2 separate regions of the Homo sapiens genome follow, and region 2 is linked to region 1. The links come from fine-mapping of genetic effects on gene expression. A gene starts in region 1. The other region holds a variant in brackets. All regions are shown on one strand. Distances are between the middles of the regions. Region 1 holds the start of TDRP (testis development related protein). Region 2 has its middle 47 kb from the start of TDRP.

What was found. PIP is the estimated chance that this variant, and not a neighbour inherited with it, causes the effect.
Region 2: its variant is fine-mapped to the expression of TDRP in whole blood (TOPMed, PIP above 0.99).

Annotation. Positions count from the first base shown.
Region 1 is chr8:540,069-548,400 of GRCh38, reverse strand. TDRP (testis development related protein) reads left to right here and starts at 3,567. Exons shown (of 3, transcript NM_001384899.1): 1 at 3,567-3,751. The coding sequence starts at 3,644. RefSeq lists an enhancer at 2,088-2,588.
Region 2 is chr8:587,487-595,818 of GRCh38, reverse strand. No RefSeq gene overlaps it. Among named protein-coding and RNA genes, the nearest start is that of TDRP, 47 kb to the right of the region's middle. The variant GA/A (reference allele first, on the strand shown) is at 3,536.

The sequences.
Region 1 (8,332 bases):
TGGATATTTATCCAAAGGAAAGAAAATTGTTATATCAAAGGGATATTTGCATACCCATGTTTATTGAAGCATTAATCACAATAGTAAAGATATGGAGTCAACCTAAGTGTCCATCAACAGATGAATGGATGAAGAAAATGTGGTGCATATACAGAATGGAATAGTATTTGGTCATAAAAAGGAATCATATCCTGTCATTTGCAGCAACATGGATGGAACTGGAGATCATTATGTTAAGTGAAATAAGCCAGACATAGACAAATATCACATGTTCTCACTCATATGTGAGAGCTAAAAAAAAATCCTGATATCCTGGAGGTAGAGAATAGAATGGTAGTTACCAGATGCTGGGAAGGTGTGTATGTTGGGGGAGAAGTAAAGTCAGGTTGGTTAATGAGTACAAACATGCAGTTAGAAGGCAATGTTTGATAGGAGAGTAGTGTAGCTATAGTTAGTAACAATGCATTGTATAGTCCAAAATAGCTAGAAAGGAAAACTTGAAATATTACCAACACATAGAATTGAAAAATACCCAAGTTGATATATACCCCAAATATCCTAACTTGATCATTACACATTCCGTGCTTGTAACAATATATCAAATGTACCCCCAAATATGTAAAATATTATGTATCCATTTTTTAAAAAAGTCAGAGGACTGAGGGTACAACTGTCTTAAGATCCAGCCTCTGCCGAATCACCTCCATGGATAAGAAACTTGTAGTTTTTAAACAGCTTTGGTTGCTAGAAAGTTCTATATGGCACCCCAAACCCCACTCCTATTTAAAATTAAGTCTGCCAGAGCAAAATCTCACTAAATTGAGCCTTATGCATTTTGAATTCAGAGAGAGATGACACGCTTGATCTTTACATCTAAAAAATTAGAGTTCCTGTACCAGTGAATTTTCAGTGGCCAAATTAGCCAATAAGGGCAATTCAGTTTAAAATGAATAGCTTCCTTCAACTGAGGCCTCAGCAGATGAAAAGGTTGTTTAACCATGACTTTCTCGATCCCAAAATGGATTTTTAGTGGTAACAATTGTATTTTTATGACACTGGATTGTGTAAAGTATGCCTCTTATGGACCTTAACAATAGCATGACTTAATTATATAAAACTCATAGAGGAGCTAATGAATGAACTGAGTCAAATTCATAGTACTCGGGAAAGTTCTTCTCAAAATTCCAGAAATGCCTGCTGCTCCGTAACAGCCGTTTCACCGGCTTCTCCCACCCAACCCCCTTCCCTCTCATTTGTGCCAGGCCTTTAGGTTGTAGATATCCTGACTAGCTGTGCTCTTCTTCAGAAGAAAGCTAAATGTCTAAAATATTCAGTAAGTTAGCTTTTTTATTTAGCAAGGCTCACCTTCTTCCAGATTGTCATAGATTTGCAGGGGATTACAGTTTAATGACAATTCATGGAGTGGATGTTGCTAGACTGAGAGGAAGCCAGCTGTCTGGGCATAAGCCCTGTGTTCCTTCGCATTAGCCAGGGGGATTTGTGTTATTTGTCCAAGTGTTCTGAGTTGGTTTTCTGTGTTTTATTTGTAGCGTCTTTATATGGGCTGTGTTTGGATCCTGACTTTGTTTTGCAACCTCTGTTTGATAGTTTTTGACTTTCATCAGTTTGTGCTTGCAATGTGCTTATTTTGACAGCACCCCGGAGCCACACCATGCCATCTTGCATTTGCAATTTTCTAAGCCCCCTAGCCCAGGAGGCCAGGCCTATTAGGCCTTGTTTGAAAAGGAGCATATATACATTTTTAACATTCTTATTATTTGCGTGAAGATGAACTCTCAAATTTAGTTTGTACTGGGTGGAGTGGTCCTTAGTAGGCGCCAGTGTTTAATTCTATTTCGTGATGTTTGCGGCCGGTAGGTTTAGCGGTCACCGGGGGAGGGAGGCATGTGGGAGGGGTGCTGCCCTCCTCTCTGGGTGACGGTATAGTTAGGTTAGTATCGTTAGGTTATTATCTGGCTCTTCCCACTCGGCTGGGGGCTCCTGCCAGGCCCAGCCCCCGCCCTCCCTGTGCGTCCCGCGCCAGGGCCCCAGGTCCCCCCAGGCCTTGGGCACGGGCGCCACCCCCTCGGTTCTCCGGGATCCTGGCCGGCATCTCCCAAAGGCAGTTCAGAGCCCCTTTCATCTTAAAAGCTTTGCTGCTCATCACTTCTGGGAAACTCAAAATGTACATTTCATTTTTTTAAGAGTCGTAAAGTTACGAAGCTTGCAGTTTTCAAGGGAGCTCATAGTTCTGGATCCTCCTTCAAAATGCGCTTTTACATGACTGAACACATGAATACATATTTGGTGTAAGAAGCGATACGAAGCGCGTCGCGGGAAAAATTAACCTGCTGGGCGGGAGCGGACGCCTAGAATCCCCCGTTCCCGCGGCTCCGTCCCGGGATCGGGGGTCGCCTCGCCGGCTCCTTTCGGCCTGGGAACCAGGCGGTTCTGCCCTCAGGAATCTGTGGGCGCCTCTCCCGCTCCTGATTCTGACAAAGCCATAGCCACGCGGGAAAACGTTCTCCGGGCCCTGAGCCCCAACCTGGGCGCCGCGGGGGTCCCAAGGGTTCTGCGCGGCCCGGCACCACGGCCCCATCCCCGCCCCCCACCGCCGTCAGTCCGGGCCGAGCCCGCGGCGCCCCAGGCCCCAGCGGCCCCACCGCCCACCAGGGCTGGGCGAGGCTTCCTCCCGGCGCCCCCACTATCCCGCGACCTCGGGCGCCGGAGGGGATGAGTCCCGGATGCCCGGCGCCCAGGCCCCGAGGGATGCCCTGAAGCGCTGGGGTACAGGCGCCGCTCCGCGGACTGTGCCCCCTCCACCTTCCCCTCAGCCTTGCCGCGGCCTGAGCGCCAGCGGCGCGCATGCGCACTGCGCTCCCGGCCGTTGCCTTGGTGACCCGAGCGGACGTGGCCACGCCCTCCGGCCAGGGTCTGGGAAAGGGTGGGGGGAGGGGGCAGTCCGGGAGTAAGTGGGGGTCGGCGGGGGAGAAGGAGAGAACCGGGAGAGGGGAATTTGCGGGGGCCGGGTGGGGGCTCGGGGGTAGAGGAGGACCCAGGGAACCGGGGATAGGGCAGGGCTAGGGGCTCGGTGGGGGCTCAGGATGGGGGCGTTTCCGGGTGAGGAAGCAGCTAGGGGCGGGTAGGTGGGGGTCAAGGTGGGGGGACCAGGTGACGGGGTAGCCTGGGGTGAGGACGTCGTTCAGTAGAACAGTGAAGGGCGAGGGTCTCGCCGGGGCGGTGGCGGGGACCACACTGGGAGGAGGGGGCCGGGGTTGACCTTTCTGTGGGGGATGGGATTCGGAGCCCCGTCGAATTTGGGGGTGGGTCTGGTCCTGGGGAAGGTTTGGGGGCGGGTCTGGTCTTCGGAAGGGTTTGGGGCGGGCCTGGTCCTGAGGAGGGCTTGGAGCGGGCCTGGTTCTGGGGATGGTTTGGGGGCGGGCCGGGTCCTGGGGAGGGTTTGGGGCGGGCCTGGTGGGGAGGGGGCGGGCCTAGTTCTGGGGGTGCCCCGCCCCCGCCTAGCCCCGCCCGGCCCACTGGGCCCGCGTCCCGCAGGAGCCGCAGGCAGAGCGTCCGGCGGCCGGGAGGGACGCGGAGCCACAGCCCGACGCACGGACGGAGGGACGCCGGAGCCCGCCTGACCATGTGGAAGCTGGGCCGGGGCCGAGTGCTGCTGGACGAGCCCCCCGAGGAGGAGGACGGCCTGCGTGGGGGGCCGCCACCGGCCGCCGCCGCCGCCGCCCAGGCGCAGGTGAGGGGGTGCGCAGGTGGGGAGTGCTAGTAGGCCGGGGGCGCGCAGGTGGAGGGCGAGGGTGGGCGGCGCGCAGGTGGAGGTGCGGGTAGTTGGGGGCACAGTTTGGGCGGGCAGGTGAGGTTGGGGCCGCGTAGCTCCGGGGCGCGGCCCGCTAGGTGCCCGAGTGCGGAGTCGGAGAACTTGACCCGAGGCTCGTCCTGGGCTGAGTTGCCGCTGTGGTCCGCGTGGACCCACTCCCCGCTTAACTGGCCAGGGCTGCCGGCGTTCTCGCCGCTTGCAGGGGACCCAGTGCCCCCTGCACGTGTTACTCGGGGCGCAGTCCCAGGAGAGCGGGGACGCAGTGCGCGCACCCCGCGGCGCGGGCGTCGTGGGCCCGGGACGCAGAGGTCCACGCCGGGTGCTCGCGTCCCGGGTGGAGCTGGCGGAGAAGGCCTGAATCATCGCGCATCCGGACGGCCTCCTCGCGGACACTAAGCAGCTTTGGACGACCGTAGCTCAATGTTAAGTGGGCTAAATGTTTGTTTGCATAACAAGTATTTTCTTAAATTCTTGATTTTTCTGAAGGAAGCCGGCAGAAGTCCTTTGTACTGAAAACTGAAAGGCCTTTACCTGACGAGTGTAGAGATATGTTTGGTATGTCTAGAATTTTGTAATTGAAAGGGCTCCCAGGTGGGCCCTGTGTGCCTTAGACGTGCCCTCCCCCACCCCCTCCCCCCCCCTCCCTTTTTCCATTGCAGTGCTCTTTTTCATGTACAATGAAATTTAGGTCAGAAATCCAGCATTCTGGATCATAAAATATCTCTTTCTGTTAAACGTGTGGCAACTTCCTCCTGATGCTGTTAAGGCCGAATGGAATATAAGGATTTGTACCTGTCTTCCGAGGACTTGGAAATAGTTTCTGAGCAGAAGAGTTTCTCTTAGGGTCTGGAGTTGTTTCTTCTTGATAGAGATTTTCTATGAACGTTAAATTCCATTCCTAACTCATGGAAAATGGAGCCGATTATGTTAAGCGCTTAAATATGGTTACTATCTGAACTTGTCTGAGAAATTTCTTTTAGGTAGCGTTAGTGCTTACGTGCCTTTTTTTTTTTTAATTTCAGAATGTTATAGTTACTCTAAACAGCTCTCTTCTTGAATGTAATGATGAGAATTTATATGTGGCTACAGAGTTAACTGCAGAAGCTACAAATAACTAATATTGGTCAAAGATGAGCCATATTATTGTTTCTGGATAGAGCCTTGAGAATTTTAAACTGAGTCTTCCTATGTTCTCCCATTTTTCCTAATGAATCCTGAAACCCACTTTTTTTTCTTAAGTTTTTATTTTTTATTTTGAGACAGGGTCTTGCCCCGTTTACTAGGCTGGAGTGCAGTGGCGCAATCTCGGCTCACTACGGCCTCAACCTGCCTGGGCTCAAGCTATTCTCCTCTCTCAGCCTCTGTAGTAGCTGGGACTACAAGTGCGCACCACCTCACCTGGCTAATTTTAAAAAACCGTTTTTGTGGAAATGGGGTCTTGCTATGTTGTCCAGGCAGATCTGAAACTCCTGGGCTCACGTGATCCGCCCGCCTCAGCCTCCCAAGGTACTAGGATCACAGGCGTGAGTCACCACGCCTGGCCTTAAGTTCTTACTTTGAAAAATTTCTAACATGCGGAAAAGTAGAAGAATAGGAGATTCTTCCTCGTATCCTCCAGCTAGATTCAATTGCTGGCAGTGCCTTCGTTAAAGCTCCTTTTCTGATTTTCCCTTTACACAATTGTCATCTATACTTTTTTTTTTTTTTTTTTGAGATGAAGTTTCGCTCTTGTCGCCCAGGGTGGGGTGCAGTGGCGTGATCTCAGCTCACTGCACCCTCCCGGGTTCAAGTGATTCTCCTGCCTCAGCCTCTTGAGTAGCTGGGATTACGAGCATGTGTCACCACGCCTGGCTAATTTTGTATTTTTAGTAGAGACAGAGTTGTCCATGTTGGTCAGGCTGGTCTCGAACTCATGATCTCAGGTGATCTGCCCTCCTCGGCCTTCTGAAGTGCTGGGATTACAGGCGTGAGCCACCGCGCCTGGCCTGTTATCTGTACATCTAAAGTGTGTGTTGGTTTTGGGGGGAAAAAACTTTAATAGACTCTATTTTTCAGGTATCCAGTTTTAGGTGCCCAGCAAATTTGAGGAGAAAGTACAGAGAGTTCTCATGGATCCCCAGCCCCCCACTATCATCACCCCCACAGAATGGTGCGTTTGTTACAATCTGTGGACCTACACGGGCTCATGGTCCTCACCTGGGAGGGCTCACTCGTTGTGCATTCTGTGGTTTGGACAAATGTGTACTGACGTTTGCCCACCATTGTAGTGTCACACACAGGAGTTTTGCTGCCTTAGAGACCCTCTGTGCACCCTCCCTCCCCGGAACCCCTGGCAAACATTGATCTTTGTACTGTCGCCATAGTTTTCCAGAATGTCATTTGGTTGCATTCACAGTGTGTAGCTTTTTCAGGTAGGTTTCTCTCACTTAGAAAGATGCATTTAAGGTTCCTGCATTTCTTTTCACGGCTTGTAGCTCGTTTCTTTTTAGCACTGAATAGTATTCCACTGTTTGGGTGTACCACAGTTTATCCCTTCACCCTCTGGAGGGCATGTTGGTTGCTTTCACGTTTTGGCAATTATGAATAAACATCAGTTTATTCATAGACCAGCTGTAAACATCAGGTGCAGGTTTTTGTGTGAATTTAAGTTTCCAACTTGGGTAAATACCTAGGAGCCTGATTGCTGGATTGCATGGTGAGAGTGTTTAGTTTTATAAGAAACCGCCAAACCGTCTTCCAAAGTGGCTGCACCAGTTTGCACTCCCATGGACAAGGAATGAGATTTCCTTTTGCTCCACCTCCTTGCCAGCATTTGGTGCTGTCAGTATGTAGACTTTGTCCATCCTAGTAGGTGTGTGGTGGTTTCTCTTTGTCTTGAATTGCGATTCCCTGATGATAAATGACATGAGCATCTTTTCAGACGCATACTTGTCATCTGTGTCCCTTTTTTGGTGAGGTGTCTGTTTAGATCTTTCTCCGCATTTTTTAATTAGGTGGTTTGATTTCTCATTGTTGAGTTTTAAGAGTTCTTTGTATGTTTTGGATACTAGTTCTTTATATGTATGTGTTCTATAAAGATTTTCTCCCAATCTGTGGCTTCACATTCTCTTGACAGTGTCTTTTTCAGAGCAGAAGTTTTTAATTTTAATGAAGCTTCACTATGAATTATTTCTTTGATGGATGTGCCTTTGGTATTATATTGAAAAAGCCATCACTGTACCCAAGGTTTTCCCAGTTATGTGCTAGTTGTGAATTTTGACTGTGGTTTTTATGTTACTTTATTAAGGTTATCCAAAGTTTGTGTTGAAAAACATTGCTATATAAAAATAGAGAAAATTTGTGTTAATTATGACAGATTAGTCTTATTCTAAATTTAGTTAATTTCTTCAAGAGGACTGATCTTTATTGCAAAGCTAACTTAGAATTAAGATGTTAGAATTAAATTAGAATTAAATTTTGAAATTCATGAAGAGTCATAAAACTTCTGCCTACAAAATTTTAAAGTTGAGAGAAGTAGGAATTAATATGCAAATAGGATTTAATGAATCTGTTAAATTCACTGTCATGTTAGAAGTTCTCAATTCTGTTTCATTCTTGGTCTTTTGTCCTACCCTCCAAATCTGTCAGTCAGTGTGATGTTAAACGTGCAGGTTGAGAGCACATTCTGCTTGATTCTAGAAAGGCATTCAGTTTGCAATCATATCCGTCCTGTTGCCTTTCTTGAACATCAGGTTACACACCTTTTTTTTTTTTTTTTTTTTTACGTGAAAAAGTAGATAATATTAGGTTCCAATAAATTTGAAATGTGAAGCATTCAAAATTACTTAGATTTATGGGACACTTAACTATTACTAAAATAATTTTAACATTTTAGAAAATAAACTTCTCTGAGAATCTTTTTAGGCTATGGGCCCTTTTTTTTGGTCATAAATACACATCTATTTTGTATTAACATATAACCGCAAGGTTTGTAAGGAGAATCATTCATTGCAATCCTCCAACAGAAAGACGCAAGTTTTCATGAATCTAATGTTACTTGAAGAAAAACTGCTAATGCATATGGTAAAATATTTGTTGAGATTGTCAGGTCTTAACTTCTTCAAAGTTTCTAATGGGAAACATTGTTAAGCTCTTTTGTATATCTGTCCATGAAACATTTATGCAGATACATAGGTGTGTGTTCAGAAACAAAGATTTGCTGTCTCACTGTTAACATTTTTCTGTACCTTGAGTTCCCTTCATAATATGTGTCTCATGGAGTGCTTCCCGTTTCAGTACTGCTAGTTGGAAAAAATCCATTTTAAGGCTGTGGGATACTAAATGATATTAAATTTCTGTGACAAAATTTATTTCATTGGGCCTCTTACGGTGAATATAAAGGTTGCTGAGCCGTCTTCTAACCTCTGCCCTCAAAGTTTTATGCAAATAGTAGAGAAAAGAAGTGCAGAGATCTGTTCAACATGGATGGTTTAGATGGGTCTGACATGGACAGTGTAGAAG
Region 2 (8,332 bases), 47 kb before region 1:
CACCCTGTTTCTCTGCGAATATCATAGGTTTGTCTGCGTCCTACTCCCTCCATCCACTCGGCTTCCTCCAGGTTTCTCTCTGGGTCTGTGTCATGTTAGGGTCTCCCTGGGTCTCTGGCCTGCATCCTCCACACAGACCCCCCACCCCAACCCACTCACATGCAGGAAGCAGCCACATGTGCTTCCAATGGGAGTGGATGGTGTGTGGGGAGGAGATGCAGCCGGGCTCTTTCCCATAGAGGTTTCCTCCAGTCATCTGCATCCCTCTCCTGAAGGCCTTGCTGGGCATCCCTGCTGTCCTGTGGCCTTCCTGGGTTCCACTAACTGCTCAGGCATGTCCTTCAAGACTGGAGTTTGTGCTGGTGGCAGGGCACTGCAGCTCTCCCATGGTATTCCAAGACTGCCTGCACGTTTGCCATTAGTTCTTTTTTGATTATTGCTTTTCAATAGCAGTTCCTTAATTAAACTTTTCTCGATTTACCAAGCTTGAGCGTGTCATGGATTTCCTGCTGGGACCCTGGCTGATAACAGCTCTGCAGCCAAGTGCCCAACAGCTCTGCAGCCAAGGCCCAACAGCTGTAGGAGGCGTATGGGGGCTTGCTTACGAGTGGCCCTCACCTCACAGCAGTGGAGATGGCCCAGTTCTTCCACTGGGGACTCCTAAGTCCAAAGACTGCATTTGTAGATTTTCCCTCCACAGCCAAGAGAGAGGTCCTTTAATTCTTTGACCTCCTGCCTGGGGGTATGAGCCTGGCCTTTGACATTCTGGGAGCTTGGAAGGTGGGTGAGGTATCCCACTCTCCACAGGGGGGCTCCACTCACCCCTCTCAGCAAGGTGTCCTCCACCCTCACTGCCCAGCTGCCCCTGCATGCCTGAGGTGCCTCACAATCACCCGGGCTCCTTGACACCCCTGACTTCTGAGGTTTCCTGAGTCTGGCGCAGATCCCCTGGGTGGTAGCTGGGCTTCCCTGTTCCTGCTTTACCTGAGATTGCTCAGTCCTCCCTCCTGGCCGAGTCTTCCTGTCTTCTCCTCTCTGAGCTTTGTTTTTATGCCTTTTCAATCACTTTATTGCCCTTTTGATTGACAGGTGAAGGAGCAAAGATGGGAGGTCTCTGTCTCTCCATCCTTAGCCCTGCTTTGCTTTAGAGCAAAGATATTGTTGGTTAAAAAAAAAAAAAGCCCTTATCCTTGAGTGATGACCCCCCAGTGTTTAGGAGCAGACGTAGAGAGAAGAGCAGCTTGAGTCTGAGCCACCCAAGGGGTGGACAAATGGACTGGGGAAGGCATCAGGAGCTCCTTGCACGAGGTCCTCTTGTTGTTCTTGTTCCTGTCACTCTTGGCTGACGAAGAACCAAGAAGGAGACTTCCATGATGACCCCGGAGAGAACCACAGTGACTGGCAGGAGGCAGGGGAGGTGAACAGGCCCTTCTCACCAGGGACCCTTGCCTGGCCTCACAGGTCCGAGCCTGCTCCCACGACCAGGTCAGCCAGAGGTGTTTACATGAGAGGGAGAGTGAGGAACACCAGTTTCCGAGGTCCCGGCTGACCTTGACGGTGAGCAGAGGAAGGTTCTCAGGGCCTCAGTGGCCCTTGGAGAACCTGCACTCTAGGGCTCATAGGAGGCACCGCTCTCTTGGAGGCCATGGTGGTGATGAAATGCTGCTTCAGGGGCCTTCTCAGCAACCCATGCCAGTGCCAGGCCTGTGTGGAGGAAGAAGGGAGAGAATGATGAAGGTGAAACCAAGGAGTTGTGCTTAAAACGTCCCCTCACTGAGCTCTCCTCACAGTACTCACTCACATCCCTCCCCTCACAGCGCCCCCTTCACATCCCTCCCCTCAGGGCGCTCCCTTCACATCTCTCCCCTCACGGTGCTCCCCTCACAATGTTTGCTCACATCCCTTTCCTCACAGCGCCCCCCTCACATCCCTCTCCTCACGGTGCTCCCCTCACAACAGTCCCCTCACAGTGCTCCCGTCACAGCACTCTGGCACAGTGCTCCCCTCACATCTCTCCCCTCACGGCGCTCCACTCACATCTCTCCCCTCACAGCGACCCCCTCACATCCTTCTGCTCACGGCACTCCCCTCACATCCTTCCCCTCACGGCGCTCCCCTCACGGCGCTCCCCTCACGACGCTCCCCTCACAGCGCTCCCCTCACATCCCTCCCCTCATAGTGCCCCTCTCACATCCCTCCTCTCAGGGGCTCCCCTCACATCTCTCCCCTCACAGCGCCCCTTCACATCCTTCTGCTCATGGCACTCCTCTCACATCCTTCCCCTCGTGGCGCTCCCCTCACAGCGCCCCTCTCACATCCCTCCCCTCAGGGCGCTCCCCTCACATCTCTCCCCTCACAGTGCCCCCTCACTTCCTTCTGCTCACGGCACTCCCCTCACATCCTTCCACTCATGGCGCTCCCCTCACATCCCTCCCCTCACTGGGCCCCCCTCACATCCTTCCCGTCAGGGCGCTCCCCCCACATGTCTCCGCTCACGGCGCTCCCCTCACAGCACTTGTTCACATCCCTCCCTTCACAGGGCCCCCCCTCACATCCCTCCCCTCACAGAGCTCCCCTCACAGCGCCCCCTTCACATCCCTCCCCTCACAGAGCTCCCCTCACATCCCTCCCCTCACAGTGCTCCCCTCACAGCGCTCTGGCATAGCGCTCCCTTCACAGAGCTCCCCTCACAGCGCCCCCCTCACATCCCTCCCCTCACAGTGCTCCCCTCACAGCGCTCTGGCGCAGCGCTCCCTCACATCCCTCCCCGCGTTCCCTCACAGCGCTCCCCTCACAGAGCTCCCCCCTCACAGCGCTCCCCTCACTGCCCTCCTATCACAGTGCTCTGGCAGGTCTAGAGTCAAGGTGCCCAGGACATTCCAGCCTCCAATGTGTTCCTTTTTATTTATTTACTTTTTGAGACAGGGTCTTGGTCTGCTGCCCGGGCTGGAGTGCAGTTGCGTGATCTCTGCTGACTACTGCCTCAGCCGCCAGGGTAGCTGGGACCACAGGCACCGCCGCGCGCTCCTGGCTTATGTTCTTTTATCCTCCTCTGCAGTACTCTTTCCTCTTCTCCCTCTCAAACCCAGATAGATTACAACCCTTGTTCTCTCTGCTTTCGTTCGGGATATCTCCTGTCTCCAAAATCGTAGAACTGACTCATAAAATATGAGAGCCAGGAAAGACTTTAAAGACAACCTCATCCTGTGAATTTTGGCACCAGATATGAACCTGAAACCTTAAAGTTCCCAACACTGCAATGGGTCAGGCCCTGCTGCGCTGGTGGAGATAAAACGTACTGAGCAGAGGAGAGAAGCTAACAGCATCGGAGAAGCTGACTGGGCTTCAGGGCTACGTGCTGAGGGGAGCAGCTGGGTGCAGAGCCTCGGGAGTAGCCTGTGTGAGAGAGACAGAGAGACAGAAAGAGGAGGAGGAGAAAGAGAGATAATCTGTTATTATGTACCACAAATGTAGCCTCCTCTCAAGATTTTGGGAGAGATTTCAGAAAAGATACATTTGGCTTTTTTCCTTATTT[GA/A]CCCTTTTTTGTCCTTGTTAGTTACTGCTCTGTGTCACTGCCTTTCCAGATGGGATTTTTCATGCTGACAAATAAATTGTGAACTCCTGGGGGCGCCCTCCTCGCTTGCATGCGGATGTCTGGCTCCCATGCATCTCCTCCAGACCTGGCTGCCTGCTGCTGTGACCTCCACGGCTTTGTTCTTCATGAGTGTGTTCCATCACAGTTCCTTGGCCACGTCCACACACACAACGGTGGATTCATTGAAGGGCCTGTGCATTATTCACTCCTGTCCCCTGAGCACAGGAACAGACAGACACATAATAAAATGTGCACAGTGACTCGGTGCCCCACATCCAGAGGTAGTGCCTCACTTGGCCTTCAGAGAGCTCTCCTCTCTCTAACAGATGCATATCATAGGAGAAAGCATGCATAATTTTTCATCGCTCAGAGCAAGATATAACATTTTGAAGACCATCTCAGGCTTTTATTCTCTTCCCTTTAATAACTTACATAAATGCTTTGGGAATGGAACAGTGCGCAGCTCTCAGTGCCTTGCTCTCTGAGTGAGAGTTCATCTGGGGCATCTTTGTTGGATGAAAGGGAGAGGTGCAGCCACAGCAGGAACAGAACTAAGGGCTCCAGGGCACCTTCAGGTCATTGACAGCATTTGATTCTTTGCAGCCGTGGGACTGAAACTCTTGTTTCCTCACTGACTGTCACCTGGGGCCACTCTCAGCTCCTCAGGGCACCTGCATTCTTCTCCCAGGGCCACATCCATCTTTAAAGCCAGTGACGGCAGTGAGCCCAGTCCTTTGCATGCCCTGAATCTGTCTGACTGCCCTTTGCACCAGCTGGGGAAAGCTCCCTGCTTCACCAAATATGTGATGAGATGAAGCCCCTGCCAGGTAACTTTACACAATCATAGGAGCAGCTCCAGGTGCAGGGGCATCCTTAAAACTCTGCTGTCTCAAAGTACCTCCATCCGCAGCAGACACTCCAGGAGGCCTAGAGGAGGAGCCGTCTCTGTAGAGGGAGCCAGGAAGACAGGGCCGGGAAGACAGGGCCGAACTCTTCTTCCCACTAGCGGTGCTTCTGGTAGGCCAAGCCCATCAGAGCACCTGGGCCTCGAGGGCCTGGGCCCCATCTTAGGAACCAGCCTGCAGTGCACGACGGAACTGAGCCATGGATGGAGGTGACAGAGAGGATGTACATCCTGAATGAGCTGTTCCTCAGCTCTTTTTTTTTGCTTTTACAAATGTGATCTTTCCCTTTGTTTGTAGCTTCTAGCTTGTTATTTGCTTAATGAAAGCACTTGGATCGTGTCTTTTAATTTCACACCAGACTGCCTCACTAATTCTCTCATTGTTTGAGTTTGTTTTTCAGTTCATTCTGCCAGATTCTCCAGATATATGGTCTTTATCAGCCTCCTAATTTTGTTATTATTTTATTTTATGTACGTAACATACAACTTACCACTAGTGACATTTAGTGCATTCACAATATTGTGAATCACTTCTGCCTAACGCCATCACCCCAGTGGGAAGCCCTGTCCCCACTAGAAGTCTCTCCCCATCCCCTGGCCCCCAGCCTCTGGCAGTCCCTAATCTGCCACCTGTCTCTGGGCTTGCCTACTCTGGATATGTAAGTGGAACTGTGTAATATGTGGCCTTTCATGCCTGCCTTCTCTCACTTAGTATGTTTTCAAGTTTCATGTATGTGTAGTGTGTGTCAGTGCCTCCTTCCTTTTTGTGGCTAAATAACACTCCATTGTCTGTATACACCACATTTTGCTCACCCGTTTTTCAGCTGATGGGCGTATGGGTTGATTCTACCTTCTGCCTGTTGAAAATAAAGCTGCTATCATCTTCAGCTGATGGGCGTATGTGTTGATTCTACCTTCTGCCTATTGAAAATAAAGCTGCTATCAATGTTCATGAGCAAGTTTCTCTTTGAACACCAGTTATCAATTTGGTGTGGGGGGTTATATACCCAAAACTGGAATTGCTGGGTACTTGTTGAGTTAAACTCTTCCATGGCAGCCTCACCATTTTACAAATCTAAGGCAAGGTACCAATACAGTATAAGAATTCCAATTTCTCTGTCTCTGTTCCAAGATGGCCGAATAGGAACAGCTCCAGTCTACAGCTCCCAGTGTGAGCGACATAGAAGATGGGTGATTTCTGCATTTCCAACTGAGTTACCAGGTTCATCTCACTGGGACTTGTTGGACACTGGGTGCAGCCCATGGAGTGTGAGCTGAAGAAGGGCGGGGCATCACCTCACCTGGCAAGTGCAAAGGATTGGGGAATTCCCTTTCCTAGCCAAGGGAAGCTGTGACAGACAGTACCTGGAAAATTGGGACACTCCTGCCCTAATAGTGTGCTTTTCCAACGGTCTTAGCAAACAGCACACCAGGAAATTATATCCCGTGCCTGGCTTGGAGGGTCCCACACCCATGGAGCCTTGCTCACTGCTAGTAAAGCAGGCCAAGATCGAACTGCAAGGTGGCAGCAAGGCTGGGGGAGGGGCGTCCGCCATTGCTGAGGCTTGACTAGGTAAACAAAGCCAGGAAGCTTGAACTGGGTGGAGCCTACCGCAGCTCAACAAGGCCCACCTGCCTCTGTAGACTCCACCTCTGGGGGCAGGGCATAGCTGAACAAAAGGCAGCAGAAACTTCTGGAGACATAAATGTCCCTGTCTGACAGCTTTGAAGAGACCAGTGGTTCTCCTAGCACAGAGTTTGAGATCTGAGAATGGACAGACTGCCTCCTCAAGTGGGTCCCTGACCCCTGAGTAGCCTAACTGGGAGACACCTCCCAGTAGGGGCTGACTGACACCTCATACAACCAGGTGCCCCTCTGAGATGAAGCTTCCAGAGGAAGGATCAGGCAGCAACATTTGCTGTTCTGCAGCCTCCACTGGAGTGGACCTCCAGCAAACTCCAACAGACCTGCAGCTGAGGGTCCTGACTGTTAGAAGGGAAACTAACAAACAGAAAGGAATAGCATCAACATCAACAAAAAGGACATCCACACCAAAACCCCATCTGTAGGTCACCATCATCGAAGACCAAAGGTAGATAAAACCATAAAGATGGCGAGAAACCAGAGCAGAAAAGCTGAAAATTCTAAAAATCAGAGCACCTCTTCTCCTCCAAAGGAATGCAGCTTCTCGCCAGCAATGGAACAAAGCTGGATGGAGAATGACTTTGACAAGTTGACAGAAGTACACTTCAGAAGATCGGTAATAACAAACTTCTCCAAGCTAAAGGAGGATGTTCGAACCCATCGCAAAGAAGCTACAAACCTTGAAAAAAGATTAGACGAATGGCTAACTAGAATAAACAGCATAGAGAAGACCTTAAATGACCTGATGGAGCTGAAAACTATGGCACGAGAACTACGTGACACATGCACAAGCTTCAGTAGCCAATTCGATCAAGTGGAAGAAGGGGTATCAGTGATTGAAAATCAAATGAATGAAATGAAGTGAGAAGTTTAGAGAAAAAAAGAGTAGAAAGAAACGAACAAAGCCTCCAAGAAATACGGGACTATGTGAAAAGACCAAATCTACATCTGATTGGTGTACCTGGGATGGGGAGAATGGAACCAAGTTGAAAAACATTCTTCAGGATATTATCCAGGAGAACTTCCCCAACCTAGCAAAGCAGGCCAACATTCAAATTCAGGAAATACAGAGAATGCCACAAAGATACTCCTCTAGAAGAGCAACCCCAAGACACATAATTGTCAGATTCACCAAGGTTGAAATGAAGGAAAAAATGTTAAGGGCAGCCAGACAGAAAGATTGGGTTACCCACAAAGAGAAACTCATCAGACTAACAGCAGATCTCTCAGCAGAAACTCTACAAGGCAGAAGAGAGTGGGGGCCAATATTCAACATTCTTTTTTTTTTTTTTTTTTTTTTTTTGAGACGGAGTCTCGCTCTGTGGCCCAGGCAGGAGTGCAGTGGCGCAATCTCGGCTCACTGCAAGCTCCGCCTCCAGGGTTCACGCCATTCTCCTGCCTCAGCCTCCCGAGTAGCTGGGACTACAGGCGCCCACCATCACGCCCGGCTAATTTTTTTTGTATTTTTAGTAGAGACGGGGTTTCACCGTGTTAGCCAGGATGGTCTCGATCTCCTGACCTCGTGATCCGCCCGCCTCGGCCTCCCAAAGTGCTGGGATTACAAGCGTGAGCCACCGCGCCCGGCCTCAACATTCTTAAAGAAAAGAATTTTCAACCCAGAATTTCATATCCAGACTAAGCTTCATAAGTGAAGGAGAAATAAAGTCCTTTACAGACAAGCAAATGCTGAGAGATTTTTGTCACCACCAGGCCTGCCTTACAAGAGCTCCTGAAGGAATCACTAAACATGGAAAGAAACAACTGGTATCAGCCACTGCAAAAACATGCCAAATTATAAAGTCCATCGATGCTAGGAAGAAACTGCATCAACTAACGAGCAAAATAACCAGCTAACATCATAATGACAGGATCAAATTCACACATAACAATATTAACCTTAAATGTAAATGGGCTAAATGCCCCAATTAAAAGACACAGACTGGCAAATTGGATAAAGACTCAAGACCCATCAGTGTGCTGCTGTATTCAGGAGACCCATCTCACGTGCAGAGACACATATAGGCTCAAAATAAAGGGATGGAGGAAGATCTACCAAGCAAATGGAAAACAAAAAACAAAGCAGGGGTTGCAATCCTAGTCTCTGATAAAACAGACTTTAAACCAACAAAGATCAAAAGAGACAAAGAAGGCCATTACATAATGGTAAAGGGATCAATTCAACAAGAA